Regions from separate parts of the Homo sapiens genome. Here regions 2 and 3 are each linked to region 1. Evidence: fine-mapped expression QTL. A gene starts in region 1. Each other region holds a variant in brackets. All regions are shown on one strand. Distances are from middle to middle. Region 1 holds the start of SCCPDH (saccharopine dehydrogenase (putative)). Region 2 overlaps LOC102724382 (a long non-coding RNA gene). Region 3 overlaps ZNF670-ZNF695 (ZNF670-ZNF695 readthrough (NMD candidate)).

What was found. PIP is the estimated chance that this variant, and not a neighbour inherited with it, causes the effect.
Region 2: its variant is the best candidate, but not a certain one, in a credible set for the expression of SCCPDH in whole blood (TOPMed, PIP 0.73).
Region 3: its variant is the best candidate, but not a certain one, in a credible set for the expression of SCCPDH in whole blood (TOPMed, PIP 0.61).

The regions. Positions count from the first base shown.
Region 1 is chr1:246,719,107-246,729,549 of GRCh38, reverse strand. It overlaps SCCPDH (saccharopine dehydrogenase (putative)), which reads right to left and starts at 5,141. Exons shown (of 12, transcript NM_016002.3): 1 at 4,938-5,141; 2 at 2,546-2,658. The coding sequence starts at 5,127. RefSeq lists silencers at 1-57, 4,788-4,997, 5,098-5,167, 5,208-5,337 and an enhancer at 5,548-5,707.
Region 2 is chr1:246,687,798-246,697,629 of GRCh38, reverse strand. LOC102724382 (a long non-coding RNA gene) reads right to left here. Exons shown (of 3, transcript XR_949364.3): 2 at 7,416-7,477; 3 at 5,101-6,162. Among named protein-coding and RNA genes, the nearest start is that of SCCPDH, 32 kb to the left of the region's middle. RefSeq lists an enhancer at 7,276-7,796. The variant C/T (reference allele first, on the strand shown) is at 3,297.
Region 3 is chr1:246,949,796-246,960,238 of GRCh38, reverse strand. All of the region lies in intron 6 of ZNF670-ZNF695 (ZNF670-ZNF695 readthrough (NMD candidate)), which reads left to right. It also overlaps a transcript of ZNF695 not described here. Among named protein-coding and RNA genes, the nearest start is that of AHCTF1, 23 kb to the right of the region's middle. The variant C/T (reference allele first, on the strand shown) is at 4,862.

The DNA of each region.
Region 1 (10,443 bases):
AACCATAATGTCTGACTGCCTGCGCGACTGGGCAGAAGAGAGTCATATTTCTCTTCTTGCAGAAAGCGAATAGGAGAAATATCACTGAATTCTTTTCCCAGCAAGGAATAACCCTGGGAAAGGAATGCATTCCCAGGGGGAGGTCTCTAAAATGGCCGCTCTGGGAGTGTCTGTCTTATGCAGTTGAAGATAAGGGATGAAATACACCCTGGTCTCCTGCAGCACCCTCAGGCTTGCTAGGATTAGGAAATTCCAGTCTGGCAAATTCTAGTCAAACTGGTTGTCTGCTCTCGTACCCTGTTTCCTGTTAAGATGTTTATCAATGACAGTGCGTGCCCAGCGGGACATGGAACCTCATCAGTAATTCTAATTTTGCCCTGGCCTTGTGATCTTGCTCTGCCATTTGCATTGTGATACCGTATTGCCTTTTGAAGCATGTGATCTCTGTGACCCACTCCCTATTTGTACACTCCCTCCCCTTTTGAAATCCCTAATAAAAACTTGCTGGTTTTGCAGCTCAAGGGGCACCACGGAACCTGTCAACAAGTGATGTCACCCCCAGAGGCCCAGCTGTAAAATTTCTCTTTGTACTCTTTCTCTTTATTTCTCAGACTGGCTGACACTTAGGGAAAATAGAAAAGAACCTATGTTGAAATACTGGGGGCTGGTTCCCCCGATAATAAAGTCTTTGAAAACTGTGCCCAATAGGAAGAGGACCAGTTTTTCCTTGTAACAAGAGATATGGCAGACTACAGGGTATGATGCAGATTGGCAGACAGGTAGGTAGGTAGATAGATCTGGTGGTAGGAAGATGAAGAAAGAAATTCTGTTATTAACCAGCTTCTATTTTCATAGTTAAAAAAAAAGAAAAATAAAATCAGATAAGAACAAGGAAAGAGAGACGGGATACTAAAAGTTCAAGGAAAACAAGGTTGTGAGCTGCTTCAGAGAGCAGGAGAGAGAATTCCTGAGGGAAATAGAGCAGAGCTGCCGGAGGTGCTAAGCACCACACAACGTTTGTAAACACATATTTGAAGTGTGACCAGTTAGCAGGGGGATACATTTTTCTCCAGCCACACTGTGTTACTCATGTTCAGGTGAAGAGCAGGCAGAGAATAACCAGGGCTGGGATTTTTCCAGAGTACTGAGGAGAAAAAGGCAAGGGAGATAGATGAGGGCGTCCATTATAGAGTGCAGCAGTGGACCTCATGGATGGAATCTAAGCTAGTTAAGAATGAGATGAATCTAAATCAACAACACTTCTATTTAATAGCAATTCAAAAACCCTTTTGCTCTCAATTAAAAATTATTAATATTTTAGATATTTAATTTTTAAACATCTTGCCAACTGTGATGGCTTCTTCAGATCACTAAATGTCACCAACATTCACCTTGTTACACAGGCCAAAAGTCTGATGGCCTGTGACTTGATGACTTTTTCACAGTACAACAGCAAAAGCCGTTCTCCTTTGAAAATATACTCTGGACCTAACTACTTCTCAGCACCACTACGACCCCAGGGCTTGTGCTTGCACCATTCCATTGCTCATCCTTTGTTATCTACTTTTCCACTCAGAAGCCAAAGAACTTCCAATTTAAATCAGCTGAAGCCCTTCCTTTCAACCATTCAACGCCTCTTGGTCACACCTGGAAAAAAAATCCACATCCTGGCCATGGCCCGTAAGATCCCACATGACCCAGCTCCCGGGTTGCTCTCTGATCCACTCTCCACCTCTCTGCCATGCCCAGCCACACTGGCCTCTGTCACACTCTTCAGTCTTGCCAAGCACACTGGCATCTCAGGACCTTTGTGCCTGCTGTCCCTGGAAAAGTCTCTCCTCAAAAGGTTCATGCAATTTGCTCTCATTTCATTCAGATCTTGGCTCAAATGTCAATTCCTCACAGAAACCTTCCCTGACCATCCATCTAAAAACACCAATATGCCAGGACCTTTTCTCCTTTCTTGGCTTCACTTTTCTTCAAAGCACTTTTCATTACCTCCTATTACAATCCTATTTTTCTGTCTTCCCCAAGAACGTAATGTCCACGAGGGATTTTCTGTTTTGTTCACCATTGTGTCCCAGGTGCCTACAATAGTGCATTTCACATGTGGTAAGCATCAATAAATATTTATTCAATAAATGAGTCGTTTTTTAGTCTTCTTTTTGTGCATTTAAAAAATATATTTACCCAGTAGTACAAGAATATAATTTATAAATAAAAAATATACTAGGGAGACACACTCAAACATTTTTTACCGAAGGGGTATATAGTAAAAAGGAAAGAAAATTCTGACAATCACAGATGTAACCAATCAACAAGCCAGCACACATGCCCTAAGGAGAACGTCATGGAGAGCCTGTCACTCACTCTCTCAGGAGACTTTGGTCATCTCCAGCTGCTCCTCGCAAGAAGAAAAAACTCCCCATATGGGGTTAAGGCCTTCAACCAACAATTCTGTCCTCTGTCCTTATGTTCCTCTGGAATATTTTGCTAGAAATGAATGGATTGTTTGTTCTGATACAAAGAAGGGTTGATTACTTACTGGTCCTACGCAATTGAGGACAACTGTTGCCTGTTTAGCCATTTCATCAAGCGAGGCTGGATTAGCAATATCACAGATGATGATTCCAACTTCAGATGACAGTGTTGGTCTTCCTAAAATAAGAAACAAATGAAGGAAAGTAAATCCCAGTAGAGGATTATATCTTCCTTATCTTCTTTTTACAGTAATCAGTGACAGCAAATTACTAAATACACTGATATGCTGAAAGCTAGCTCTCCTGCTTAGACAAAAGATAAAACTGTTTTTAATCAGGTAATACAAAAGGAAAAAATTATGAGGAAAACTGAGTTAACACTAAGAGTTACTAAAAAACTGACCTTTTAAAAAAAATCGAATCAAAGCGTTGTGTAAATAACAACCCTGTGTAACATGACAATTTCACAATCAAGTTTAAATGCTGAGCAGATAACTATCCAGACTTCCTCTCCAACAAGAAATTTATGTCATAAAATAGTTTCTTGGCCAGGGGCAGTGGCTCAGCACTTTGGAAGGTCAAGGTGCAAGGATCTCTTGACCTCAGGAGTTCCAGACCAGCTTGGGCAACATAGCAAGACCTTGTCTCTACTAAAAAAAAAAAAAAAATTATCTGACATGGTGGCATAGCCTGTAGTACCAGCTACTCAGGAGGCTGAGGCGGTAGAATCACTTAGACACAGAGGTCAAGGCTGCAGTGAGCTGTGATCACGCCACTGTACTCCAGCCTGGGTGGCAGAATGAGAACTTGTCTTTAAAAAAATAAAGTTTCTCATCAACCACTAAACAATTACTATGATCCAATTGTAGGTGATGGAGAGTTTCGGACTGACTGTTAACATCAAAACCATCAGGGCTGGGTGCAGTGGCTCACGCCTGTAATCCCAGCACTTTGGAAAGCCGAGAAGGGTGGATCACGAGGTCAGCAGATCGAGACCATCCTCACTAACACGGTGAAACCCCGTCTCTACTAAAAAAATTAGCAGGGCGTGGTGGCGGGCGCCTCTAGTCCCAGCTACTCAGGAGGCTGAGGCAGGAGAATGGCAAACAAACAAACAAAAAACAAAAAATTAGAACTCTGAGGTGAAAAGCACACGCTATATAAACACACACAGGCTCATAAGAAAATAATTGGAATTAACTGGCTCAACTAAGTGATGCAGGTTTCAATAGGTGAAGGTATATCCCCCCACAATGAAACTTGATTTGGGCATTATATATGATAAGTGACTAGGCTGTACCGGTACGATCTTGCTGAGCCGAAAAAAGAAATGGAAGCATATATTTTCATAGTAAAATTACTTCTGTTGGAAAAATAACGACCAAAAAGCTCTTTGGTCAGAATTACGTGTTGGTAGTGTCAGCACCAAAAGCTGTAGGAGAGTCCAGCCTACGTGGTGTCTTCTGTACATAACCACGAACAAAAGCACTCCGAGCAGGGCATTGTATGAAAGTAGATTAAACAGAAAGAATGTAGTATTTCCAGAACTCTAATGGGTGTCTGTATAAGGGAAATCTACGGGAGTTAATAGCCAAATTTAAAGGCTACGGAGTCGTAAGTCAGATGTCTCCCCAGCCATGAAGGCAGCAGGATCCGTGTGTCTGTCTCCTCTCTGTCCCATCCTGCACCCCAGACTCGGGACAGGTCTTAGCATGGACAACGTCACTCAATAAATATATGCTCCTTCAATGCTTAGAGAATCAATAAATATATGCTACCTGAATGCTTAGATTATCAATAAATATATGCTACCTGAATGCTTAGATTATCAATAAATACATGCTACCTGAATGCTTAGAGAATACGTAAGCGTCTAAACCAGAAATACACACTTTTTATTCTCTGAAGAGGAAGACTGCTGGAGTATTCTTACACACAAAACAAGAAACTAAAACAGAATAGCCACAAAGACACTGTCAGTACAACTCGTAAGCTTGCTCTCCCGTCCTCAAAACACGAGGCAAAGGGAGACTCCGATCTCCAAGAGACCAAAGCCCTCCTCTCCTCTCCGACCAAACATCTAGAAACCCGCAGATTCAACAGGTGCCCCCGCTGCGGGGCAGGATGAAGCAGAGAGAGGGACAACTCAAGTTCTTGACCATTTCGCCAGGGGAGCTCCCCAAACTGAGGCAGAAATGCAAAAAGCGGGAAAGAGGAGAAGGAAAGAAAAAAAAATGTGTGTGTATATTATACACGCACGCGCACACACACATATAGTTAAGGAGGTGGGACAAAGCTATGGCAGTATTTGAAACATCTCTCCCTCTCCTCTTCTTGTCCTCACGCAGGGCTCGGGGACACGTAGGGCGCATCCCTGCGGGAGAAACGCTCGTTTGGGGCGATGCGGGGTCCCCGGCCCAGCCGCCCGCGCAGCCCCGTCCCGCCCCGCCGCTGTACCCAGCTTCAGGGCCGCCTTCTCCAGCACCCGCTGCAGCTTCTCCCGGGAGCGGCCCGCCACGGCCCAGGGCAGGCGGGAGCTCCGCTCCGGGTCCACCTGCTCCCGGGCCACCTCCTCGGTCACGAACTGGCCGGTGAAGCCAGACGCGCCGAACACCACCAGGTGGAAAGGCCTCTGCTCGGTCGCCATGACGAGTCCACAGCGAGCCCAGGCCCCGGGGCGGGTGGAGTCCACGGCGCCTGCGCCTCAGGCAGCGACCCCAGTACCCGGCGCAGCAACGGCCGCCGTCGCCGCAGCCAGCGCGCCGGGCTCCCTTCACCCCGCGCGCGCCGCCGCGCCAGGGCCGCGCCCACGCCCACGCCGCCTCGCGCGGGAGCCGCGGGTGAGCGGCTTGCTTGGGAGGCTTCCGACGGGAGGTTTCCTAGGGCGGTGGCCCTGGGGGCGAGTCCGCTTCCAAGCCTGGCAGGCGCGGACGGCGGCCCCTAATTCCGTGCGGCGGTTTGTTCTGCAGGGCTCTGGCCGCCCCGGGCAGCGCATCTTCTAGCCCTGCTGGAAGCTGGAGGCGGCAGCCGGTTGTCCTTGTTGCACGTGGGGGTGGAGCAAAGAGTGCGAGAAAATCTGCGGATGGCCTCGGGGATGGCCCACCCCGAGAACCCTTGAGCTTGCTTGCTTTCTTCCTTTCTTTCTTCCCTTTTTTCCCTTTCTTTTCTCTTTTCTGTTTTTGAGATGGAGTCTCACTCTGTCGCCCAGGCTGCAGCGCAGTGGCGCGATCTCGATTTACTGCAACCTTCGCCTCCTGGGTTCAAGCGATTCTGCCTCAGCCTCCCGAGTAGCTGGGATTACAGGGGAGCGCCCCCACGCCCTGCTAATTTTTGTGTTTTTAGTAGAGATGGGTTTTCACCTTGTTGGCCAGGCTGGTCTCGAACTCCTGACCTCAGGTGATCCACCCACCTCGGCCTCCCAAAGGGTCGGGATTACACGCATGAGCCACTGCACCCAGCCCATTCCTGATTTTTAAAAACTCTCATTAAAATAGGAATAAATGAATGCTTTTAAAAATTTTGAAATATATGTCTTGCAAAAAAGGTACAGCCAATAACAAATATGTACCCTCAACACAGCTTAAGAAAAATATTCCAGATAGCGAGGCTTCCAGGTATTCATTCCTGAACACATTTCCTTTTGCGTCCCCAAGACGGCCACTTGCCTGAATTTAGTGTTTATTATTCCTATTCCTATCTTTCTGCTTGTTATATATGTATGTATTTATAAATATTATAGTACCGTTTTGCATATTTTGAATATTTTGTAAATGTCAATCCTGCAGCTTTCTTATTTGGTCATGATGTCGTGAACTTATTCCCAAATGATTCAGAATAAAAAAAAATGTCTGTGATACGTGTGTGGAGAGAGGGAGAGAGAGAGAAATACACCAAATTCTACAATGCTTTTGTACAATGTTGTATAGTGCTTTTGTGCAATATAATACAAAGAATGCTACAATAAAATTCTTGTACCTTTCTCCTAAAGCACCTGTGCGAAAGTGTATTGAATATGTGTCAGGAATGAAAATGGTTGGTGCTAGAATATCCATATTTGAGTTATCTCACTGCTCTTTAAAGCACATGCACTAATTTTCGCTCTCAGCGGGATACAAGAATCCTCTTGCTTTACGTGCTTGTCAGCACTTGGTATTCTCAGACTTCATGCTTGTCCATCTGGTGGGTGTAAAGTAGTAAGCATTCAAGTATTTATTAAACACTTAACTATATACTGGGCACTAGGAATAAAGTACTGGGGATATGGCAACAAATAAAGCCCCTGCCCTCAAGAAGTTTACATTCTAGTGGAGTAAACAGTCACTAAAAAATAATCTTACAGAGCCAGGTACAGTGGCATGCACTTTTAGTCCCAGCTACTTGGGAGGCTGAGGCAGGAGGATTGCTTGAACCTAGGAGTTGGAGGTTATAGTGAGCTACACTCCAGCCTGGGTGACAAAGTGAGATATTGTCTCTAAAAAGAAAATAAAAACAAAAGAAAACAAAAAACCCTAAAAAAACAGAATATATATATATATATATATATATATATATATATATATATATATATTTTGTTTTTTGGGAAGCATGCTTGCTATGGTTTGGATGTTTGGCCCCCCCAAATCACATGTTGAAATGTAATCCCCAGCATTGGAGGTGGGGCCTGGTGGGAGATGTTTGGGTCATGGGGGTGGATCCCTCATGAATGGCTTGGTGCCATCCCCAGGATAATGAGTATGTTCTCTCTGCATAAGTTCATACAAGAGCTGGTAGTTGAAAGAGCACTCATCCTTCTCTCTCTTGGTCTCTCTCTCACCATGTGATACATTGGCTCCATTTCACCTTCTGCCACGATTGGAAGCTTCCTGAGGCCTCACCAGAAGCAGATGCTGGCACTACACTTGATGTACTTCCTGCAGAACCATGAGCCAAAATATAAACTTTTTTCTTTATAAATTAACCAGCCTCAGGCATTCCTTTAAAGCAACGCAAAAATGGACTAACATAATGGTCATTGCAGCATTGCTTTGTAATAACAAAAAGTAGAAATAACTGAAATGTCCTTTATCAGAGGAATTATTAAATAAATTATGGTGTCCTATTCATTCAATAGGAACTGTGCAGCTATAAAGAATGAAGAATGACTATTCAGGTGGTTCTAGGTAAAAAACACACAACAACAACAAAAACAAAAGAATGAAGTAGGCTGGGCACAGTGGCTCACGCCTGTAATCCCAGCAGTTTGGGAAGCCAAGGCAGGAGGATCACTTGAGTCCAGAAGTTTGAGACCAGCCTAGGCAATGTAGCAAGACCCCATTTCTTAAAAAAAAAAAAAAAAAAAAAAAAAATTTTTTTTTTTAATTAGCTGGGTGTGGTGATGTGCATCTGTAGTCCTAGCTACCTGGGAGGCTGAGGTGGGAAGATTGCTTGAGCCCAGGAGTTCGAGGTTACAGTAAATCATGATCACACTACTGCACTGCAGCCTGGGCAACAGAGCAAGGCTATGTTTCTAAAAAAAAAAAAACAAAACAAAACTGTGTATAGTGACACGGAAAATCTTCCAAATTTCCTAACATTACAAGAGTATATTTAAGACAAAACAATGTATGTATATGCACACAAAATGTTAAGAATACATGATAAATCTTTTTTTTATTATACTTTAAGTTTTAGGGTACATGTGCACAACGTGCAGGTTAGTTACATATGTATACATGTGCCATGTTGGTGTGCTGCACCCATTAACTCATCATTTAACATTAGGTATATCTCCTAATGCTATCCCTCCCCCTTCCTCCCACCCCACAACAGGCCCCGGTGTATGATGTTCCCCTTCCTGTGTCCATGTGTTCTCATTGTTCAATTCCCACCTATGAGTGAGAACACGTGGTGTTTGGTTTTTTGTCCTTGTGATAGTTTGCTGAGAATGATGGTTTCCAGTTTCATCCGTGTCCCTACAAAGCACATGAACTCATCATCTTTTTATGGCTGCACAGTATTCCATGGTGTATATATGCCACATTTTCTTAATCCAGTCTAACATTGTTGGACATTTGGCTTGGTTCCAAGAATTGCTATTGTGAATAGTATTGGGGAACCTGCCCCGATATTCACGTAGGTTCTTTTCTATTTTCCCTAAGTGTCGGCCAGCTTGAGAAATAAAGGGACAGAGTACAAAAGAGAGAAATTTTAAAGCCAGGCGTCTGGGGGAGACATCACATGTCAGTAGGTTCTGTGATGCCCCACAAGCCGCAAAAACAAGCAAGTTTTTATTAGGGATTTTCAAAAGGGGAGGGAGTGTGTGAATAGGTGTGGGTCACAGACATCAAGTACTTTACAAGGTAATAGAACATCACAAGGCAAATGGAGGCAGGGCGAGATCACAGGACCACAGGACCGAGGCAAAATTAAAATTGCTAATGAAGTTTCGGGCACCACTGTCATTGATAACATCTTATCAGGAGACAGGGTTTTGAGATCAACTGGTCTGACCAAAATTTATTAGGCGGGAATTTCCTCTTCCTAATAAGCCTTGGAGCCCTATGGGAGACTAGGGTCTATTTCATCCCCTGCAGTCTCAACCATAAAAGACAGGTGCACCTGGGGGGGGGCTGTTTATAGGCCTATACCTCCAGGTGCGTATTCTCTTTCCCAGGGATGTTCCTTGCTGAGAAAAAGAATTCAGTGTTATTTCTCCCATTTGCTTTTGAAAGAAGAGAAATATGGCTCTGTTCTGCCCGGCTCACCGGCACTCAGAATTTAAGGTTATCTCTCTTATTCCCTGAACAATTGCTGTTATCCTGTTGTTTTTTCAAGGTGTCCACATTTCATATTGCTCAAACACACATGCTGTACAATTTGTGCAGTTAATGCAATTATTACAGGGTCCTGAGGTGACATACATCCTCCTCAGCTGACAGGATTAAGAGATTAAAGTAAAGACAGGCATAGGAAATCACAAGGGTATTGACTGGGGAAGTGATAAGTGTCCATGAAATCTTCACAACTTATGTTTAGAGATTGCAGTAAAGATAGGCATAAGAAATTATAAAAGTATTAATTCAGGGAACTAATAAATGTCCATGAAATCTTCACAATCCACGTTCTTCTGCCATGGCTTCAGCCAGTCCCTCCATTTAGGGTCCCTGACTTCCCGCAACAGAATAGTGCCACAATAAACATACGTGTGCATGTGTCTTTATAGCAGCATGATTTATAATCCTTTGGGTATATACCCAGTAATGGGATGGCTGGGTCAAATGGTATTTCTAGTTCTAGATCCCTGAGGAATGGCCACACTGACTTCCACAATGGTTGAACTAGTTTACAGTCCCACCAACAGTGTAAAAGTGTTCCTATTTCTCCACATCCTCTCCAGCACCTGTTGTTTCCTGACTTTTTAATGATTGCCATTCTAACTGGTGTGAGATGGTATCTCATTGTGGTTTTGATTTGCATTTCTCTGATGGCCAGTGATGATGAGCATTTTTTCATGTGTTTTTTGGCTGCATAAATGTCTTCTTTTGAGATGTGTCTGTTCATGTCCTTCGCCCACTTTTTGATAGGGTTGTTTGTTTTTTTCTTGTAAATTTGTTTGAGTTCATTGTAGATTCTGGTTATTAGCCCTTTGTCAGATGAGTAGGTTGCGAAAATTTTCTCCCATTTTGTAGGTTGCCTGTTCACTCTGATGGTAGTTTCTTTTGCTGTGCAGAAGCTCTTTAGTTTAATTAGATCCCATTTGTCAATTTTGTCTTTTGTTGCCATTGCTTTTCGTGTTTTGGACATGAAGTCCTTGCCCACGCCTATGTCCTGAATGGTATTGCCTAGGTTTTCTTCTAGGGTTTTTATGGCTTTAGGTCTAACATTTAAGTCTTTAATCCATCGTGAATTAATTTTTGTTTAAGGTGTAAGGAAGGGATCCAGTTTCAGCTTTCTACCTATGGCTAGCCAGTTTTCCCAGCACCAT
Region 2 (9,832 bases), 32 kb after region 1:
ACTGCAACCTCTGCCTCCTGGGTTCAAGCGATTCTCCTGCCTTAGCCTCCCGAGTAGTTGGGACTACAGGTGTGCACCACCACGCCCGGCTAATTTTTGTATTTTTAGTAGAAATGGGGTTTCACCATACTGGCCAGGCTGGTCTCCAACTCCTGACCTTGTGATCCGTCCACCTCAGCCTCCCAAAGTGCTGGGATTACAGGCATGAGCCATGGCGCCCGGCCGACCTCATCTCTTAAAAAAAAAAAAAAAAGAAAGATTTAAACCAACAACAAAAAACCCCTAACAAACATGTGATAGTTGGATTGCGAATACCGATTGGATTAGGGTGTGGCTGAGAAAACCTTGACCCAGCAGGGGCAGAAAGAAGGCACTGCCTTCGGGGCTGGATCAGAGAGGTGCTTTCCCGAGCGGCTTCCTGAGCTGCTCAGCGTTCTGGAGAGAAGGTGGCTTATTTCTGCCCCTTCCCCTGCGGCCGCTGGGCCACGCTCTGGAGGCCGGAGCCCTCCGTGTGCGCCTCTGCTCTGACTCCCGAGGGATGTCGGGCAGCTGAAGCCAGGCAGGGCTCCCGGGTGTGTGACTGTGGTTGTGAGAGTGTCCTCATGCCACATGACAGCGTGGGAAAGGGGCTTGTCTGTTCCTGTAAGGGCACCAAGGCTTCCTGGTTGTATCATTTCCCTTTGGATTTTTGACAGGATCCTTCCCATTCCCAGTGGATTCGGGAAAATCCTTTCGGGCCACTGGTCAGCATTCTTTTCCTCCAGCGAGCTGGGGCACCTCCATAAAGCTGACAGGCAAGGCGCAGGGCCCTCCTCACCACACACACACAGACACACACACACACACACACACACACACACACACGCCTACACACACACACACACACACACACACACACACACACACACACGCCTTTCAGTCACCGCAGGGCAGGGCCCCTGCGCCCAGCATGATGCTGTTCCTTTTGGAAACCACGAGGTGGCGCTGCTGAGACAAGGTCAAAGGTGAGGCTCGTTCCCCTGCGCTGCGAGCAAGAGGCGGCGCCCCTGGTCTGAGTCCTCAGCAGGATCCTGTCCTGGCTGCCGGTGCTGTGGCTTATTCATTGATTTTCCCATCACTTCAGCAAACATTGACTGAGTGCTACCAGGAGCCAAGAAATGGACAATGATCCATGTTCATTGCTATAGTACCTGAACACTTAAAAACACGCTCCCGGGCGGGTGACGCACGCCTGTAATCCCAGCTACTGAGACCTACTGAGGAGGCTGAGGCAGGAGAATCGCTTCAACCCGGGAGGTGGAGGCTGCAGTGAGCCGAGATCGCGCCACTGCACTCCAGCCTGGGCGACAGAGCGAGACTCTATCTCAAAGCAAAACAAAATAAGACAAAAACAAAACCAAGAAAACACGTTTTCAGGAGCTCCCAGGTCCCCAAGTGGAGCTGGAGAGGCTGCGACAGCCCAGGTCTTGAGGAACAGGTGGGTTTTGTAGGTGAGCTTGAATATAGGGGGCGCGGGTGCAGAGGGAGCCTGGCAGGTGTGGGGCAGCCAAGCCAAGGCAAATGGGTGTGACTGACAGTGAGGAGGCTAGACTAGAAAAAGCCTCTCTGGAGGCCTCAGTTTCTTTATCTGTCAAATGAGCTCCAGAGACTCAATGCAGCACTGCCAGGTCCCTCGCCTGGTAGAAGGAAGGGTACCCATGACAGGCTGTAAGAGGCATCCTCGATCATGAGATCATGAGATGGACAGGCCTGCACCCAAACCCCAGCTCAGCCCGCTACTATTTCCGTGCCTCTGACAAGTCCCTTACCTCGCTGACCTCCTGCTTCCTCTTGTAGAAAATGAGATTGATGGGCTGGGCATGGTGGCTTATGTCTGTCATCCCAGCACTTTGAGACACTGAGGCAGGAGAATCCCTCAAGGCCAGGAGTCTGAGACCAGCTTGGGCAATACAGTGAGACCCCATCTCTATGAAAAAATTTTGAAAAATTAGCCGGGCGTGGTGGTGCACACCTGTGGTCCCAAGTACTCGGGAGGCTGAGGTGGGAGGATCGCTTAAGCCCAGGAGTTCACAGCTGCAGTAAGCTATGATTGCACCACTGCACTCCAGTCTGGGCAACAGAGAAAGACCCTGTCTCAAAAAAACAAAACAAAACAAAACAACAACAACAAAAAGAAAGAAAATAAAACAAAATTGATGATACTTGCTTTGATTTGGGAGAATGTATTCTGGCAGGGTTTCAGAGCCAGGAGGCTGTGCTCAAGTTCCGACTCAGCCACTTAGTAATTGTGTGTCCTTGGGAAGTCACTGAACCTCGCTGAGTCAGAGTTTCTTCATGCCTTACATGACTACACCCAGTCTACCTTATAGAATTAATGAAAACTTAAATAAGGTGGTGTTTCCAATCCAGGAGCTAGAGCATAACGGGTGCTGAGTTATTACTTTTCCCTCTTAACTCATGTAGCACTTGCTACCAGAAGTAGAGTTCAGCAATGCGTCCTGCCTTGATTTGCTGATTAATGTTATGTTTGTTGGCCTTGTCTCCGCAACAAGATTTTAAACTTCATAAGGTCATGGACCATGTTGCCGAGCACCATGCCCAGCACACAGTAAGCATGGAATATACAGTCTCCAGCCAAGCACCATGCCCAGCACATGGTAAGCACGGAATATACAGTCTCCAGCCGAGCACCAAGGGCAGTTCACTGATATCGGGGGAACCCACCCACAATATATCAATGTAGGTTCTTTCTATTTTCTATAAGTGTCAGACTGCTGAGAAATAAAGAGAAAGAGTACAAAGAGAGGAATTTTATAGCTGGGCCGCTGGGGGTGATATCACATATCACCGTGATGCCCACCTGAGCCTCAAACCAGCAAGTTTTTTATTAAGGGTTTCAAAAGGGGAAGGGGTGTAAGAACAGAGAGTAGGTACAAAGATCACATGCTTCAAAGGGCAAAAAGCAGAACAAAGATCACATGCTTCTGAGGGAACAGGACAAAAGGCAAAGCAGAACTACTGATAAGGGTCCAACAAAGATCCCAAGGCAAAGGGCAAAAGCAGAACTACTGTTAAGGGTCTATATTCAGCGATGCATGTATTGTCTTGATAAACATCTTAAACAACAGAAAACAGGGTTCGAGAGCAGAGAACCAGTCCGACCACAAATTTACCAGGGCGGAGTTTTTCCCCACCCTAATAAGCCTGAGGGTACTGCAGGAGACCAGGGTATATATCTCAGTCCTTTCCTCAACCGCATAAGGCAGACATTCCCAGAGCAGCCGTTTATAGACCTC[C/T]CCCCAGGAATGCGTTCCTTTCCCAGGGTATTAATGTTAACATTCTTTGCTAGGAAAAGAATTTAGTGATATCTCTCCTACTTGCAAGAAGAAAAATATGGCTCTTTTTTGCCCGACACTGCAGGCAGTCAGACCTTATGATTGTCTTCCCTTGTTCCCTAAAAATCACTGTTATTCTGTTCTTTTTCAAGGTGCACTGATTTCATATTTGTTCAAACACATGTTTTACAATCAATTTGTACAGTTAACACAGTTATCACAGTGGTCCTGTGGTGATGTACATCCTCAGCTTACAAAGATAATAGGATTAAGAGATTAAAGTAAAGGCAGGCATAAGAAATTATAAAAGTATTATTTGGGAACTGATAAATGTCCATGAAATCTTCACAATTCATGTTCCTCTGCTGCGGCTCCAGCCGGTCCCTCCGTTCGGAGTCCCGGACTTCCCACAACAACTCAGACTATGGCACTTTCTAGTTTTCTCTTAGAGACAGGGTCTTGCTCTGTCACTCACGCTGGAGTGCAGTGGTATGATCACAGCTCACTGAAGCCTTGACCTCCCAGGCTCAAGTGATACTTCCACCTCAACCTCCCAAGTAGCTAGGACTACGGGTGTGCACCATGGCACCTGGCTAATTTTTTAATTTTTGGTAGGGGCAGGGTCTTGCTATATTGCCCAGACTTGTCTCCAATTCCTGGCCTCAAGTGATCCTTTCACCTCGGCCTCCCAAAGTGCTGGGATTACAGGTGTGAGTCACCATGGGCAATAGCATTTTCACTGATCCAAACAGTATTTGAGGAGATGCTATATTCAGGCTTATACATTCTAGAACTTTTCCTTTTCAAGATTTAAACTTCCTGTATAACAATGTCCTATATCTTGTGGCTGCTAATAACTGGAATAATAATAGCTAACTTTATTGAATGTTTACTGTGTGCTTTATACACATGATCTCATTTAATCTTCATAACAACCTGACGAGGTGATTTATTATTATTCCCACTTTACAGATGAGAAAACTGAGGCTCAGGAAAGTTAAGTAACAAGTGAAGTTTCCACAGCTAGTACTGTAAGTGGGAGAACTGAGATTTAAGTCCAGGTCTTTCTGATACTGGAGTTCTTGCCTGTGAGCACTCTGCAATACTGCCTCCAAAGTAATGACATGCATGCAAGCACCAGGCACATAATAGGTACTCAATAAAAGTTGGCTCTCTTCCTTCAATCAAGAAGTGTATCAAAGGCTGGGCAAGGTGGCTCACACCTGTAATCTAACACTTTGGAAGGCCAAGGAGGAAGGATTGTTTGAGCCCAGGAGTCTGAAACCAGCTGGGCAACATAGTGAGACCTCATCTCTACAAAATATAGAAAAAATTAGCCAAGTGTTGGTGGCACACACCTGTAATCCCAGCTACTTGGGAGGCTGAGGTAGGAGGATCACCTGAGCCCAGGAGGCCGAGGTTGCAGTGAGCTGTGTTTGCACCATTGTACTCCATCCTGAGTGACAGAGTGAGACCCTGAAGCAAGCAAGCAAGCAAACAAGCAAGCAAGAAAGAGAAGGAAGGAAGGGAGGGAGGGAGGGAGGGAAGGAGGGAGGAAGGGAGGGAGGGAGGGAGGGAGTAAGGGAGGGAGGGAGGGAGGGAGGGAGTAAGGGAGGGAGGGAGGGAGGAAGGGAGGGAGGGAGGGAGGGAGGGAGGAAGGAAGGGAGGGAGGGAGGGAAGGAGGAAGGAAGGGAGGGAGGGAGGAAGGGAGGGAGGGAGGGAGGGAGGAAGGGAGGGAGGGAAAAGAAGGGAGTCTAGGATGAAGTGGGCACCTAAGCAGGTGAATAGGATAGGTAAAATCTCATCCCTGCCCTCAGGCGGTAGACACTCTCCAGTCATAAGCTCTAATGTGCTGTAGAAAAGCCTCAGGTTCTCAGGGGTTTTCCAGCTGAGCATCTGGAAGGCCGCAGTGCAGTTCTGTGTCCAAGCACTGCAGAGCCTCATGCAACAGTCTCATCACTCGGTGCGACCCTCCTGGAAGGTCTGTTCCCAGGGGAGGCTACAGCGAGGCAAGGGGAATGCAAGAGTTCCTAGCCAGGCTAGGACCTCAACTTGGCATTCGCGAGAGACAGATTCTCTGTGTCCCCCGTCCCAGCCCTGAAACCCACAGGAGGTAGAGGAGCAAGCTCTCAGTGAAGGCCTCGTCTCTGGAATCTCTTCTTTGGGGAAAAAACGACATGAGCCTGCCACAGAGCCTGTTTATGAAACAAATCAGAGAGCTATTTTGAGCAATTACCCCCAGCAATCACGACAGCATAACTTGTGTAGTCGGAACTAGGTCACCAAGTAATCTCACCAGCGCCAGAAGAAATTCATCTGGGAAGGACACTAGCTTGGGGAGATGAGATAGGATAGGCCCTGGCCTCTTGTCAAGATATCCAGATTTCAAGGGACAACTGAAGACACAACAGAGACAGGGGCTCACTATGCATTTCCTTTTAAAATTGGCAATAATCTGGCCACAGAATCAAGGTAAAGTTACTGAATCCTCTGGTTCTTGGTTCGGCATGATTGTAGCTGCTGGTGGTTGTCATGGAAACCAGCAGAGGCGTTAGATCTTAGCTCTGACACTCAGGAGAAGCTGAACTTATTCTGTTATGAGCTTTTTTTTTCTCTCTTTTTTTCTTTTTTTTTTTTTTAAATAGAAATTGTCTTGAACCTGGATAAACAGGCCTCAAAGTTTTTCCTCCGCCTGGCTTGGATATGTTTCTGTTTCTGCTTTCTGGCTACACAGAATCTAACGACGCATCAAGAATTGGCCCTGGTGCTCTGTAAGATGTTTTGTTGGGTCTCTTTTCAGTTGCCAGAGACAGAGACCTAAATCGACCTAGGTTAGGTAAGAAAAAATAAAAAGATTCATTATTGAGTAAATTATCAATGTGATATTGAATACCCTTTTTTTACTTTTTAGTTTTTTCATTTAATTCTAATTTTAAAATTTATTTTTTCATTTTACTTTTTTTTCCCCCACAATATAGGTGGGGAAAGACCGAAACTGGTCTGAAAATATTTGGAAACACAAAGACGGCCTTGGGCTGGGCGTGGTGGCTCATGCCTGTAATTCCAGCACTTTGGGAGGCTGAGGCAGGAGGATCACTTGAGCCCAGGAGTTGGAGACCAGCCTGGGTAACAAAGGGAGACTCCTTCTCCACCAAAAATTAAAAAATAAGCCAGGTGCGGTGGTACATGCCTATAGTCCCAGCTACTCAGGAGGCTGAGGTGGGAGGATCACTTGAGTCCAGGAAGTTGAGGTTGCAGTAAACTATGATCACACCACTGCACTCCAGTCTGAGTGACAGTGAGACCCCCATCTCTAAAAAAATTTAAAAAATTAGCTAGGCATGGTGGCACATGCCTGTAGTCCCAGCTACTTGGGAGGCTGAGGCAGGAGGATCACTTGACCCAGGAGGTTGAGGCTGCAGTGAGCTGTGATTGTGCCACTGCACTCCAGCTTGGGTGACAGAGGCAGATCCTGTCTCATTAAAAGGGTGGGAGATGACATTAGGAGTCTCTCTCTGTTTTGCCATCTCTCATCTTCGAGTCCATCACACTCTTGCTCTGTCGCCCAGGCTGGAGTGCCACGGCATGCTCACTGCAACCTCCGCCTCTCGGGCTCAAGCCATCCGTCCACCTCAACCTCCTGAGAAGCTGGGACTACAGGCACGCACTACCACGCTTGGCTAATTTTTCATATATTTTGTAGAGACAGGACTTCACCATGTTGCCCAGGGTGGTCTCAAATACCTGGGCTCAAGCAATCTGCCCGCCTCAGCCTCCCAAAGTGCTAGGATTATAGGCATGAGCCACGGTGCCCAGCCCCATCAGACTCTAAGCCTCCCCCTGGGCAAGGGATGGAGCAGGCAGTTCTGAAGTCACATCCTCACACTCTTTCTGCTTTAGTTTAAGGGAGAGAAGTTGGCTTCGAGGATGAAAAAAAATCCCAGGTGGGTTCTGATTGCCTCAGCTGGGAACAGGTGCCTGCGCCAGGGCCGGCTGCCACGTGTGAGGTGGGACCCGTGTCCTCCGCCCTCTGAGACAGCCAGGTGTTGGAAAGGATCTAAAACACGAATTCCATCTCACGTGTGTATATAGACGGCAGCTCCATTTGTTGTTCCTTCTAGGGGGTCCATACTTGTATCAGTCTGAGTCCAGTCCGGAGAGAGAAATCACGTAGTAATTTGAACAGAGAAAATTCAATATAAAGAATTATTTACTAGAGCAAGGGATTACAGCCATGAGGGGCTGGCTAGTAACAAAGAAAGAAAACTCCAGTGAACCAGCCCCAGGACTGAGAGAGCCCCCACGCCGGCCCCAGGCGGAGATCCAGACCTGTGCAGCTGTGACTCTGAATGGCAGAGAAGTTGTTGTGGTGCCCTGTGGCAAATCCTTCTGGAAGTCGGCCCTCCGAGGTGCCAGGTGTCTTGATTGCTAGAGGCATGCTGCTATAAAAACGGCACCAGGGCTGGCGGGCGCCGGGCTGGGCGGGGAGGTTCCGTCTCCTGGGTGCTGCTGGCTGCAGTCACTGTAGGAGCGGGGCACTGGGGGAACCACCCAGTGAGCACCCTGGAACCCAGAGGCAAGTCAACCTCTTCTCCTTCTCCCGTGTCTCTCTATCACCCTCTACTGGCAAGATTTCAGTGCTAGCTAGCCCGGGAAAAAAATATTTAAAGGTCCAGATCCATTTTCACAGAGTAGTCCAAAAGGGGGAATTTGGAGCTGAGAGTCCAAGATGGAAAAACTGGTCTGGGCGTGGCAGCTCACGCCTGTAATCCCAGCACTTTGGGAGGCCATGCAGGAGAATCACTTGCACCCAGGAGTTAGAGACCAGCCTGGGCAACATAGTGAGATGTCTCTATGAAAAATAAAAATTAAGAAAATTGCCAGTCCTGGTGGTACATGCCTGTAGTCCCAGCTACTTGAGAGGCTGAGGCAAGAGGACAGCTTCAGCCCAGGAGATGGAGGCTGCAGTGAGCTATGGTAGTGCCACTGCACGCCAGGGCCTGGGCAACAGAGCAAGACATTGTTGCAAAAAAAATGTATATATATATATATGATGCATAATACCTCAGATTACTCTCCGTTGGGGAAATATTCAGATTTTAGAAGCCATAAAGCAATGAAATAGACATTTAGCATCAACTATGTGTTATGTTTAGATTTGAATCTAACAGAATTAGGCGCTGTAGATCCTTGTTTAGCAGTGTGATATGATGAGAGCAAGTCTACCACATGAAGCTTCCTTTTAGATGCTTAAAATCACAGGGTAGGAAGGCTTGCTTCCTCTCCAGTTATTAAAGAAATTAAATTTAAAATTATATCATGTACCATTTTACACCTACCGGCATAAATGGAGGTGATAATGAACCCAGTGCTGGTCAAGTATTGGATACAGACGTGTAAACATCACTGGTGTCACCAGTTTATTACAGGGGTTCCGTCTTTTTGAAGGAAAATAATAAAACAAGAGCCTTAAAACAATCTTACCCCTTATTCAGTAATCCAAAAACCTCTGAATGTATTTCTAAGTAAAAAGTTCAAGGTCAGGTGCAGTGGCTCACGCCTGTAATCCCAGCAATTGGAGAGGCGGAGGTGGAAGGGTCGCTTGAGCCCAGGAGTTTGAGATCAGCCTGAGCAACAACATAGGGAGACCCTGTCTCTACAAAAATTTTAAAAAATTAGCCAGACGTGGGGGCGTGCAGCTATGGTCCCAGCTACTTGGTAGGCTGAGGTGGGAGAATCACCTGAGTCCAAGAGTTTTAGGCTGCAGTGAGCTATGATCACACCACTGCCCTCCAACCTGGGCAACAGAACAAGACTCTGTGTCTAAAATCATAATAATAATAATAGTTCAAAATAAAGGTCTATCTGTACAATAATATTTACAGTAGTATTCATTTATTATAGAGAGAAAGGTAGAAAACCCAAATGTCTAATGAATAAAGAAAGGTTACAGCCAGGCTCAGTGGCTCACATCTGTCATCCCAGCGCTTTGGGAGGCTAAGGCGGGCGAATGGCTTGAGCCCAGGAGTTTGAGACCAGCCTGGGAAACATGGAGAAACCTGTCTTTACAAAAACTACAAAAATGAGCCAGGCATAGTGGCATGCGCCTATAGTCCCAGCTACTCAAGAGGCTGAGGTGGGGGGATTGCCTCAGCCCAGGAGACTGAGGCAGCAGTGAGCTGTGATCTCACCACTGCTCTTCAGCCTGGGCAACAGAGTGAGACCCTCTCTTAAAAAAAGAAAAAAGGAATATGAGGATGAAATTAGGCAAAGTGAAGAAAATAGCCAAAAAAAAAAAAAGTGTACATACTATAACTATGGGGAAGAAACTTTATACACAGGTTACATGAATATACTAAAAACCACAGAATTGTTCACTAAGTTTTTGAATTTTATGGTATATGAATTATATCTCAAATGTAAAAAAAGAAAAAACACTAATTGAGGCCACAGGGATATGTAAAACATTTCTGTGGTAAAGGAGGGAGATGTTTTGC
Region 3 (10,443 bases), 230 kb before region 1:
TTCCCTTTTTGCTGATATGTTTACAATTTCTTTGAATAGAAAAGAGGAAGTATTACAATATGAGAAAGTTTCCTTAAATAATGACGTGGCAAAATGTGTGAAATCTGAGAGGAAAAGCAAGCAGTTAAATTATTCATGAAGCTTCTCAACTGGGTTTTTCAATGAGATTGGTTTGTTTCAAATAATACATTGTGAAATATGTAATCTAACATACTTAGAGGAAATGAAGTTCAGTGAAATTGACTGTTGCATGAAGATAGCAGCTTACCAAAATACATAACCATAGTTATGAAAACTCATACATTGCTACGGAACTAATGGATCAGAAACACTGGAGAGTTTTTGCTTCTGAGGAACAGTCCACTTTCACCGCCTATCTTCAGAACCGCCACGGAGAGGGAGAACTAAGAACATCTAGCTGTTAATTTCCTGCATCATTGGTGCAGAATGTGGCACATTGTAAGAAAAAGTGACAAGCTCAATAGTCTAGGTTCTAAAAATATGCCCATTTTGGGCCAGGCACGGTGGCTCACACCTGTAATCCCAGCACTTTGGGAGGCTGAGGCTGGTGGATCACGAGGTCAGGAGTTCGAGACCAGCCTGGCCAAGATAGTGAAACCCCCATCTCTACTAAAAATACAAAAATTAGCCGGGTATGGTGGCGCTCGCCTGTAGTCCCAGCTACTTGGGAGGCTGAGGCAGGAGAATTGCTTGAACCCAGGAGGTGGAGGTTGCAGTGAGCCGAGACTGTGCCACTGCACTCCAGCCTGGGCAACAGAGTGAGACTCTGTCTCAAAACAAAAACAAAAAAAATGCCCATTTTGGGTTCTAGAATAAGCAGATAATGTGTTTTCAACATTTAAATGCTTCTTTCAGAAAAGAGATTTTATATATATATATATATATATATATATATATATATATATATTTTTTTTTTTTTTTTTTTTTTTTTTTTTGAGACAGGGTCTCACTCTGTCATCCAGGCTGGAGTGAGTCCTGTGGTGAGATCATACCTCACTGCAGTTTCAAACTCCTGGGCTCAAGCAATCCTCCTGCCTCAGTCTCCCAAGTAGCTGGGACTACAGGTACATGCCCGGCTAATTTTTAAATTTTGTTGTAGAGACAGGGTCTTGCTATGTTGCCCAGGCTTGTCTGAAACTCCTGGCCTCAAGCAATCCCACCTTGGCCTCCCAAAGTGCTGGGATTACAGGTGTGAGCCAACGCACCTGGCCAAGACACAGTATCTGATTCGCTGACATCTGAGGAGAGTAAGGATAATTTACAGTATCTGATTCATTGACATCTGAGGAGATTAGTGATAATTTACAAGACACTTCTTCTTCCCCGTGAGTGGCACTCGCTTTCTTAAACCAATAGCAAACACACTTTTCACCTTAGAGGACTTCACTGTCCCCGCGTGTTACTATGGCTGCATAACAAATCACCCGAAAATGGGGTGGCTTAAAGTACAACAATCATGCGTTACATCGTGTATTATCTCGCACCGTTTCCATGGTTAGAAATTCACACCAGGCGTAGAATGGATGGCTGGTTTCTGACCCACATTGTCAGGGATATCAGCTGGAAGACTCAAAGGCTGGCGCCTGGACTCTGAGGGATCATTCACTCAGGATCATGACAGCAGCTGATGCTTGCTCATGGCTGGGGACTAGCTGAGGATGTCAGCCAGAATTCCTCACTAGACCTGTCTGTGGCCTGAGTCTCCTTACTATGTGATGGCTGAGTTCTAAGGGTAAGGATCCCAAGAGAGAAGGAAAAATAAATGGAGGTTTCTTCATTTTTATGACCTAGCCTTCAAAGTCACATATTTTGTGACTTTTTGCCAAACTTCAATACTGGGGCAATCATAAGACAAGTCCCGGCTGGGTGCAGTGGCTCACGCCTGTAATCCCAGCACTTTGGGAGGCCGAGGAGGGCAGATCACGAGGTCAGGAGATCAAGAACATCCTGGCTAACATGGTGAAACCCTGTCTCTACTAAAAATACAAAAAATTAGCCGGGCGTGGTGGTGTGCACCTGTAGTCCCAGGTACTCGGGAGGCTGAGGCAGGAGAATGGCGTGAACCCGGGAGGCGGAGCTTGCAGTGAGCCGAGATCGCGCCACTGCACTCCAGCCTGGGCGACAGAGCAAGACTCTGTCTCAAAAAAAAAACAAAAACAAAAACAAAACAAAACAAAACAAAAACCAAGTCCCTGCCTAGATTCAAAGAGAAGAAACATAGATCCAACGTCTCTGTGGGAGAAGTGTCAGACTCATCATAGAAAAGGCATGTAGGATGCATGTAGTAATAAATATACAGGTGCAACCATCTTTAGAAAATACAAGGCTGGGTGTGGTGGCTCACGTCTGTAGGACCAGGAGTTTGGGACCAGCCTGGGCAACATGGCAAAACCTGTCTCCACTAAAAATACAAAAAATTAGCCAGGCTTGGTGGTGTGCACCTGTAGTCCCAGCTACTGGGGAGGCTAATGTAGGAGTCACCTGAGCCCAGGAGCTCGAGGCTGCAGTGAGGTAAGATCATGCCACTGCACTCCAGCCTGGGCAAGCTGAGTGACACCCTATCTCAAAAAAAAACCCAATCTGCCACAATGTGTTTCTAGAAAGGTATTGAAGGTTTATCTCATATTGCTACATAATTTGAATTTTAAAATATTTTATTATAAATATCTGCTCACGTGGAAAATTTAGAAAAAGATGAAAAGAATAGTCCAATATAGTCCTACCACCCAAATTAACCATAATTAGAGAAGATTAAAGTTTTCTTATAGTCAGACATACGATTTTCTGCTGTGGTTTCTTCGTTGCTTGTGTTCCCCAATTCTTTTTTTTTTTTTTTAGACGGAGTTTCGCTGTGTTGCCCAGACTGGAGTGCAGGAGCCTGATCTCAGCTCACTGCAACCTCCAACTCCCTAGTTCAAGCGATTCTCCTGCCTCAGCCTCCCGAGTAGCTGGGACTACAGGAGTGCACCACCACGCCCAGCTAATTTTTTGTATTTATTAGTAAAGACGGGGTTTCACCATGTTGGCCAGGATGGTCTCCATCTCTTGACCTCATGATCTGCCGGCCTCGGTCTCCCAAAGTGTTGGGATTACAGGCATGAGCCACCGCACTCGGCCTGTTTCCCAATTTTTAATTAAAAACTTGAAAGAGTAGTACAAAGAATACCATTTATTCTCCATATAGATGCAGATAATACTAACATTTTATTAATTCAATATTTGCTTTATCTCTTTTTTTCTTACTGAACCAATAGAAAGTTCATTTCACATATCATGATACCACCTGTAAATATTACAGTCACAACATGCATCTCCTAAGCATAAGGACGTTATACTGAGTAATCACAACAACGTTATCATCTCAAGAAATAGGCCCAGCGCAGTGGCTCATGCCTGTAATCCTAGCACTTTAGGAGGCCAAGGTGGGAGGATCACTTGAGGTCAGGAGTTCAAGACTAGCTTGGGCAACACAGCAAGACCACATCTCTACAAAAATAAAAATAAATAATAACAATAATAGTTTCATGATATCTAATAACATAGAATGGGCAATTCAATATTAACATACCCCCAATTATCCCATGATCTTTTTTTTATTTTTGGAGGCAGAGTCTCACTCTGTCCCCCAGGCTGGAGTGCAGCGGCACAATCTCGGCTCACTGCAACCTCTGCCTCCCGGGTTCAAGTGATTCTCCTACTTCAGCCTCCTGAGTAGCTGGGATTATAGGTGACTGCCACCAGGCCCGGCTAATTTTTGTATTTTTTGTAGAGACGGGGTTTCACCATGTTGGCCAGGCTGGTCTCAAACTCCTGACCTCAAGTGATCTGCCTGCCTCAGCCTCCCAGAGTGCTGGGATTACAGGCATGAGCCACCGCGCCCGGCCCCCATGACCATCTTTTATAGATTTTTTTAAAAATAATGATCCAATCGGCCGGGCACAGTAGCTCATGCTTGTAATCCCAGCACTTTGGGAGGCCGAGGCTGGTCGATCACGAGGTCAGGAGTTCAAGACCAGCCTGGCCAACTTGGTGAAACCCCATCTCTACTAAAAATGCAAAAAAATTAGCCGGGACTGGTGGCCGAAGCCTGTAATCTCAGCTACTTGGGAGGCTGAGGCAGAGAACTGCTTGAACCCAGGAGGTGGAGGTTGCAGTGAGCCGAGATCATGCCACTGTACTCTAGCCTGGGTTACAGAGCAAGACTCTGTCTTAAAAAAAAAAAAAAAAAAAAATCCAATCCAAACTAATATCTGGCATGTGGGTATCTTTGGTTAATGTCCTCATCTGGCTCCCGTGCCTCCGTACCTAAATCTGTCAAGTAAGGGGTTAGTGATGAGACCGTTGTCTACCCAGGGAGTTCTTGTGAGCATCATATTCACTTTCTTCAGCTGGGACTCACTGAGCACCTTCTGTGTGCTGGACATTGTCCAGAAGACAGTAGTACTCTTAGGAGCCTACATTCTAGAGAGATGGTAGAAAAGAACGGACTTTGAAAAGTTAACATCGCTAGGTAAATATAGGGCGTTATCATTTTAGGCTAAAGGATTGAAACAAATCTTGGGGAAAAAGCCTCCTTTGTACAAAAGAAAATGGATTTAGATTAAAATTAATTAGTTCTGTTCTGTGTAGGTGTTTGTTTACAAGCTCAATGAAGAGATCAGCAATACTGAGTAGAATGATAATTTTAGAGTTTAGAGTATATGAGAACACTGCGGGAGAGCTTCTACTCTTAATTAAATAAAATTACTTATACACATTTTGTCACATAATACAGTTAAGCACTGCATAACAGTTTCAGTCAATGATGGACCTCATAGACGACAGTGATCCCCTAAGGTTA[C/T]AATAGAGCTGAAAAATTTCTATCACAAATACTTACCATTGTGTGATGATTTCCTTACACTATTCAGTACAGTAACATGCTGTACAGGTTTGTAGCCTAGGAGCAATAGGCCTGTATTGGTCTATTTTCATACTGCTATGAAGAAATACCCAAGACTGGGTAATTTTTAAAGAAAAAGAGGTTTAATGGATCCAGTTTCACATGGCTGGGGAGGCCTCACAATCGTGGTGGAAGGTGAAGGAGGAGCAAAGGCACATCTTCATGGTGGCAGGCAAGAAAGCACGTGCAGACTTATTCACTGTCGTGAGAACTGTATGGGAAAAACTCCCCCTATGATTCAATTACCTCCCACCAGGTCCCTCCCATGACACGTGGGGATTATGGGAGCTACAATTCAAGATGAGATTTGGATGAGATTTGGGTGGGGACACAGCCAAACCATATCAAGGCCTTACCTGATAGCCTAGGTGTATAGTAGGCTATACTATATAGATTTGTGTAAGTACACTCAATGATTTTCTCAGAATGTATCCTGAGATGACTGTATGACTGTATTAAATTTTTATTTTCTCAGTTATTATTTTCCTAAAAACTTAGTGAGCAAGAAAACCCTATAAGAATATAGAGATAGCAAGTCAGAGTTTCGAGCTGGAAGTGGCCTGAGAGATCGTCTAATCCAGATTCCACATTTTTACAGATGATCTGATCAGTGATCATTTTACAGGAATTTGCATGAAACTTAAGGCTCTAGACACACATGGTTTCCATATATAGAAGCCTGATTCCAAATCCTGTACATTAGACAAGACAATCAGAATCTTGTGTTATCCTGATTTTTGTTCTTCATCTTCCAGTTACATGGGTTTTCTTGTGAGAGCTGAAATAATAGTATCACCTTTGGGGAACGGTGACTGCCAGTTTTGGATCAATCTTAGGCCACTGGAAGGTTGGTGGATCTTCTCCAGCAATTCGGGCTGAACTCAAGCAAAGCTGAGTCTAAGATCAGTTTGGACCCTTTCCCCTGGAACAGCTGGCAGGCATTGCCTGTTCCTGTCCTTGGCTTTCAACTGCTGGACAACATGTTTGGGGAGTGTGTGCCAATATTTGGGTTTTTATTCTTCTGGTTTAACAGTTGTTAGTGCCGTTGGCTCTCAGGGAAATTCAGGACAATCTCCTTCTGTAGCTTTAAGGTTGGCCTGATTGGCAAGACAGTTGAGGACAAACTGAAGTCATTCGTTCATTCATGTGCCAGTGTCCCTGTGCTCAGAAACAGTTGTTTTAAGGATGGCAAAATGGAAGACTTGAGGATTTATGATAATACTGAATGGCTATCCTCTAGGGCACTGTTGAGTCTTAGCAGAGTCCCAAGCTCTACACTTACCCTGAGTTTTTAGGCTTCTTTGTTTTTCGGGTTTCTTTTTTTTTTTTTTTTTGCTTGTTTGTTTGTTTGTTTTGAGACAGTCTCACTCTGTCGCCCAGGCTGGAGTGCAGTGGCGTGATCTCAGCTCACTGCAACCTTCATCTCCTGGGTTCAAGTGATTCTCCTGCCTCAGCCTCCTGAGTAGCTGGGATTACAGGTGCCTGCCACTATGCCCAGCTAATTTTTGTATTTTTAGTAGTAATTTTGTATTTTTACCACGTTGGTCAGGCTGGTTTTGAACTCCTGACCTCAGGTGACCCACCTACCTTGTCCTCTCAAAGTGCTGGGATACAGGCGTGAGCCACTACGCAGGGCCCATTTCTTTGTTGTTTTTTTGTTTGTTTTTGAGATGGAGTCTTGCTCTGTCACCCAGAGCTAGAGTGCAGTGGTGCGATCTTGGCTCACTGCAACCTCTGCCTCCCGGGTTCAAACGATTCTCCTGCCTCAGCCTCCCGAGTAGCTGGGACTACAGGCGTGTGCCACCACGCCTGGCTAATTTTTTATATTTTTTTTACTAGATGCGGGGTATCACCATGTTAGCCAGGATGGTCTAGGTCGCCTAACCTCGTGATCCGCCCGCCTCGGCCTCCTAAAGTGCTGGGATTACAGGCGTGGCCCACTTTGTTTTTATTACTGAGGTTATTCTGTAGGTTTTCTGAAAATAAGCAATCAGCATCTAGGTCCAAATTTACAATTTGTAATGACATTCCAAAATTCATCAATGAATAAAACAATAGCTAGGAATGTCATGTTAATTATTTAAATACGTTGGAATCTGCCAATGTTCCCTTAAGCCTCCCTCCAAAGGAGGCCTGAAGTTGAGCGTATGACAAGAAAATATCTAGTAGAGTAGAACAAACTTAGTATTACACCGAAAGCCTAGGGAAGTATTACAGTCCAGCCATTGGGAACCTCAGAGGATTGTGGGGTGGACATGCCCTTCTAAATTGTGGCTCAAGTAGGGTCACATCCTTTCCTAGGTTTCCTTCATTGTGGCTGAGACTGGCAATAATTTCTTTTTTAAAACAAAATTTATACAGATAAGGCCTCACTATGTTGCCCAGGCTGGTCTTGAACTCTTGAACTCCTGGGCTTAAGTGATCCTCCTGCCTCAGCCTCCCAAAGTGCTGGGATTACAGATGTGAGCCACTGCACCTGGCCAAAAATCAATAGTTTCTGAAAAGAAGTTGCTGAATACTGTTGAGGAATAAAAGATGAATTAAATATGGAGAATAAAGGAAGCATAACACCAGCATGCTGGAATGCACCTGTAGTCCCAGCTACCCAGGAGGCTGAGGAGGGAGGATCACTTGAGCCCAGGAGTTCAAGCTTGCAGTAAGCTGTGATTGCACCACTGTACTCCAGCCTGGGCAACAGAGTGAGACCCTGCCTCAAAAAAAAAAAAAAAGAAGAAGAAGAAGCATAACATTATTTATTCTAGTCATTCATTCAACAAATATTCATTGAATACCTAATATGTGCTGGAGATATGAACTGTGAACAAAACTTTATAGAAAGCTTACAGTTTTTAATATCCTTTTTCTGATTAAAGAGGAAAACAACTTGCAAACTGCAAGGAGACACAAAATAAATAAAATGTTTAAATCACCTGTGCAAAATACAAAGGACACTAAAGAAAATTTGAAATTATCATCTGTGGTCTCTGTTTTCATAGAGCTTCCACTCTGGTGGTAGAAGTGGTACTTGGGGGCTGGACACAGTGGCTCACGCCTATAATCCCAGCACTTTGGGAGGCCGAGGCAGGCAGATCACTTGAGGCTAGGAGTTCGAGACCAGCCTGGGCAACAAGGCAAAATCCTGTCTCTACTAAAAATACAAAAATTAGCCAGATGTGGTAACATACGACTGTAGTCCCAGCTACTCAGGAGGCTGAGGTGGGAGAATCGCCTGAGCCTGGGAGGTCAAAGCTGCCATGAGCCAAGATCACACCACTGCCCTCCAGCATGTGCGACAGAGCGAGACCCTGTCTCAAAAATATATAGTGGTACTTGGGAAGCCAGACAGTAAACAAAGATGAACTGGTGCTGTGAAGAAAAAGCAAGGTAAGAGGACAAAGAGCGGGGGGAGAAGGTGCACTCTAGGTAGGGTGGTCAGGGAAACCTCTTTGACAAAGCCTATGGGGCTCATTCTATCCCTTTCTAGTCCCAAAGGGCTGGCCCAGCTGTGCCAGCACCTGGCTTACCAGGTCTCAGCAGTTCCCACAGGAAGGATCTTCCACACAGAAGCTGGCTTTCCTGACAATTTGGATCGTTGTAGCTAAGGACCAGGGCCTCTGTGGTTGACCTGAGACTTGCCTCTTTGTTCTAGTTTCTGGTCTAGGAGCGTGTAATAGTCTCCTAAGGCTGCTATAACAAAACACCACAAATGGTGTGCCTTCAAACATCGGAAATGTATTATCTCAGTTCTGGAGGCTCAAAGTCTGAAATCAAGGTGTCAGCAGGGCCTGACTTCTGCCAAGGCCTCTAGGGAAGAATCCTTCCTTGCCTCGCCCAGCTTCTGGTAGCCCCAGACATTCCTTGGCTTGTGGCAACATCACTCCAACCTCCACCACCTTCGACGTGGCCATCTCCCCTCCGTGTCTGTTTTCCCTTCTGATTGTATGAGGACCCACCCTATTCCAGCATGACGACTTAATTAATTGCACTTGCAGTGCCTCTATTTCCGAAAAAGGTCACATTCTGAGATACTGGGGGTAGGACTTCAGCATACCTTTTTGGGGAACACAGTTCAGCGCATAACAGAGACCAAGAGTCCAGGCCCAAGGGCTAGGGTGATTTTTATAATGATGACATAATGACACATACTGAGGGTGTCTCGGTGCCTCCATTTCAGACCAACTATATGACAACACTTAAACTGAGTAAAAAGCACAATATTCCTACAATATGAATTGCACTCATTCTGTAACAAAAGGGACATGAAGTCATACCTTTGTTTTATTACTAACTGTATATTGTTTGATAGTAAACAAGTTGACATGACTTTGGAGGAACAGGGTATACCTGTTTGATATTTTTCAATTTGGAGTGGTCATAAGAATAGCTACTGTTTTACAAGTTTACTCATTTAATTTTCACAGTCATCCTAGGAGGATGAAACTACTGTCATTTTGCATTTTACAAATGAAGAAACCGAGACAGAGTGGTCAAGTACCTTGTCCAAAGCTGCTCAACTAGGAAGAGACAGAGCCAGGAGAGCAATGAAATGTTAATAGCTTTACAAATCCCTGTAATTGTCATTTGTTTCTATATTGGGTGGATTTTTTTTTTTTTTTTTTTTTTTTTTTGAAACGGAGTTTCGCTCTGTTGCCCTGGCTGGAGTGCAGTGACGAAATCTCTACTCACTGCAACCTCTGCCTCCCGGGTTCAAGAAATTCTCCTGCCTCAGCCTCCCGAGTAGCTGGGAATACAGGAGCGTGCCACCACGCCCAGCTAATTTTTTATGTTTTTAGTAGAAATGAAATTTCACCGTGTTAGCCAGGCTGGTCTCAAACTCCTGACCTCAGGTGATCCGCCCACCTTGGCCTCCCAAAGTGCTGGGATTAGAGGCGTGAGCCACCACCCCTGGCCTGGGTGGATTATTTTTAAAGGATTATATATAATCAAAAAGAATGGCAAGTCTGAATCTTTTCAGTAATTATTTTTAAACCATTTGAGAGGCCTTCCTAGTTGTATATTCAAGCATAGTCCTTGGTCATAAGCACACACCAATTTTGTCTTTCTCCCAAAAGGTCACGAATTATGAAACTAAGCAAAAGCAGGAGGCAACCAGATAAAAGTGGGGAAACATATTCTCCTTTTAATCCGTAGGCTCTTTGGTGAGTTACATCAGGAACTCATGACCTCCTTTGGCTTTCAGTAACTGAAGCCTAGTATATGACTTTAGTACAATAAGATTTTATTTCGTAAAATGAGGCACATAGCCACTTTAAAAATAAAGACACAAATATCTCTTCTGTGGCATAAGATAATAAAAATATTACTTAAGCCGTAAATCTGAAGCCGAATTAATTCTGTATACATTTTCCTGCTACAGAATGTCACTTTTATACGATTATATTTAAAGACACATACAAAATTGTTAGTATGTAATTGATGGTTATACTATATAAAAGAAAAGTAATTAGTCTTTTCCATTTGTT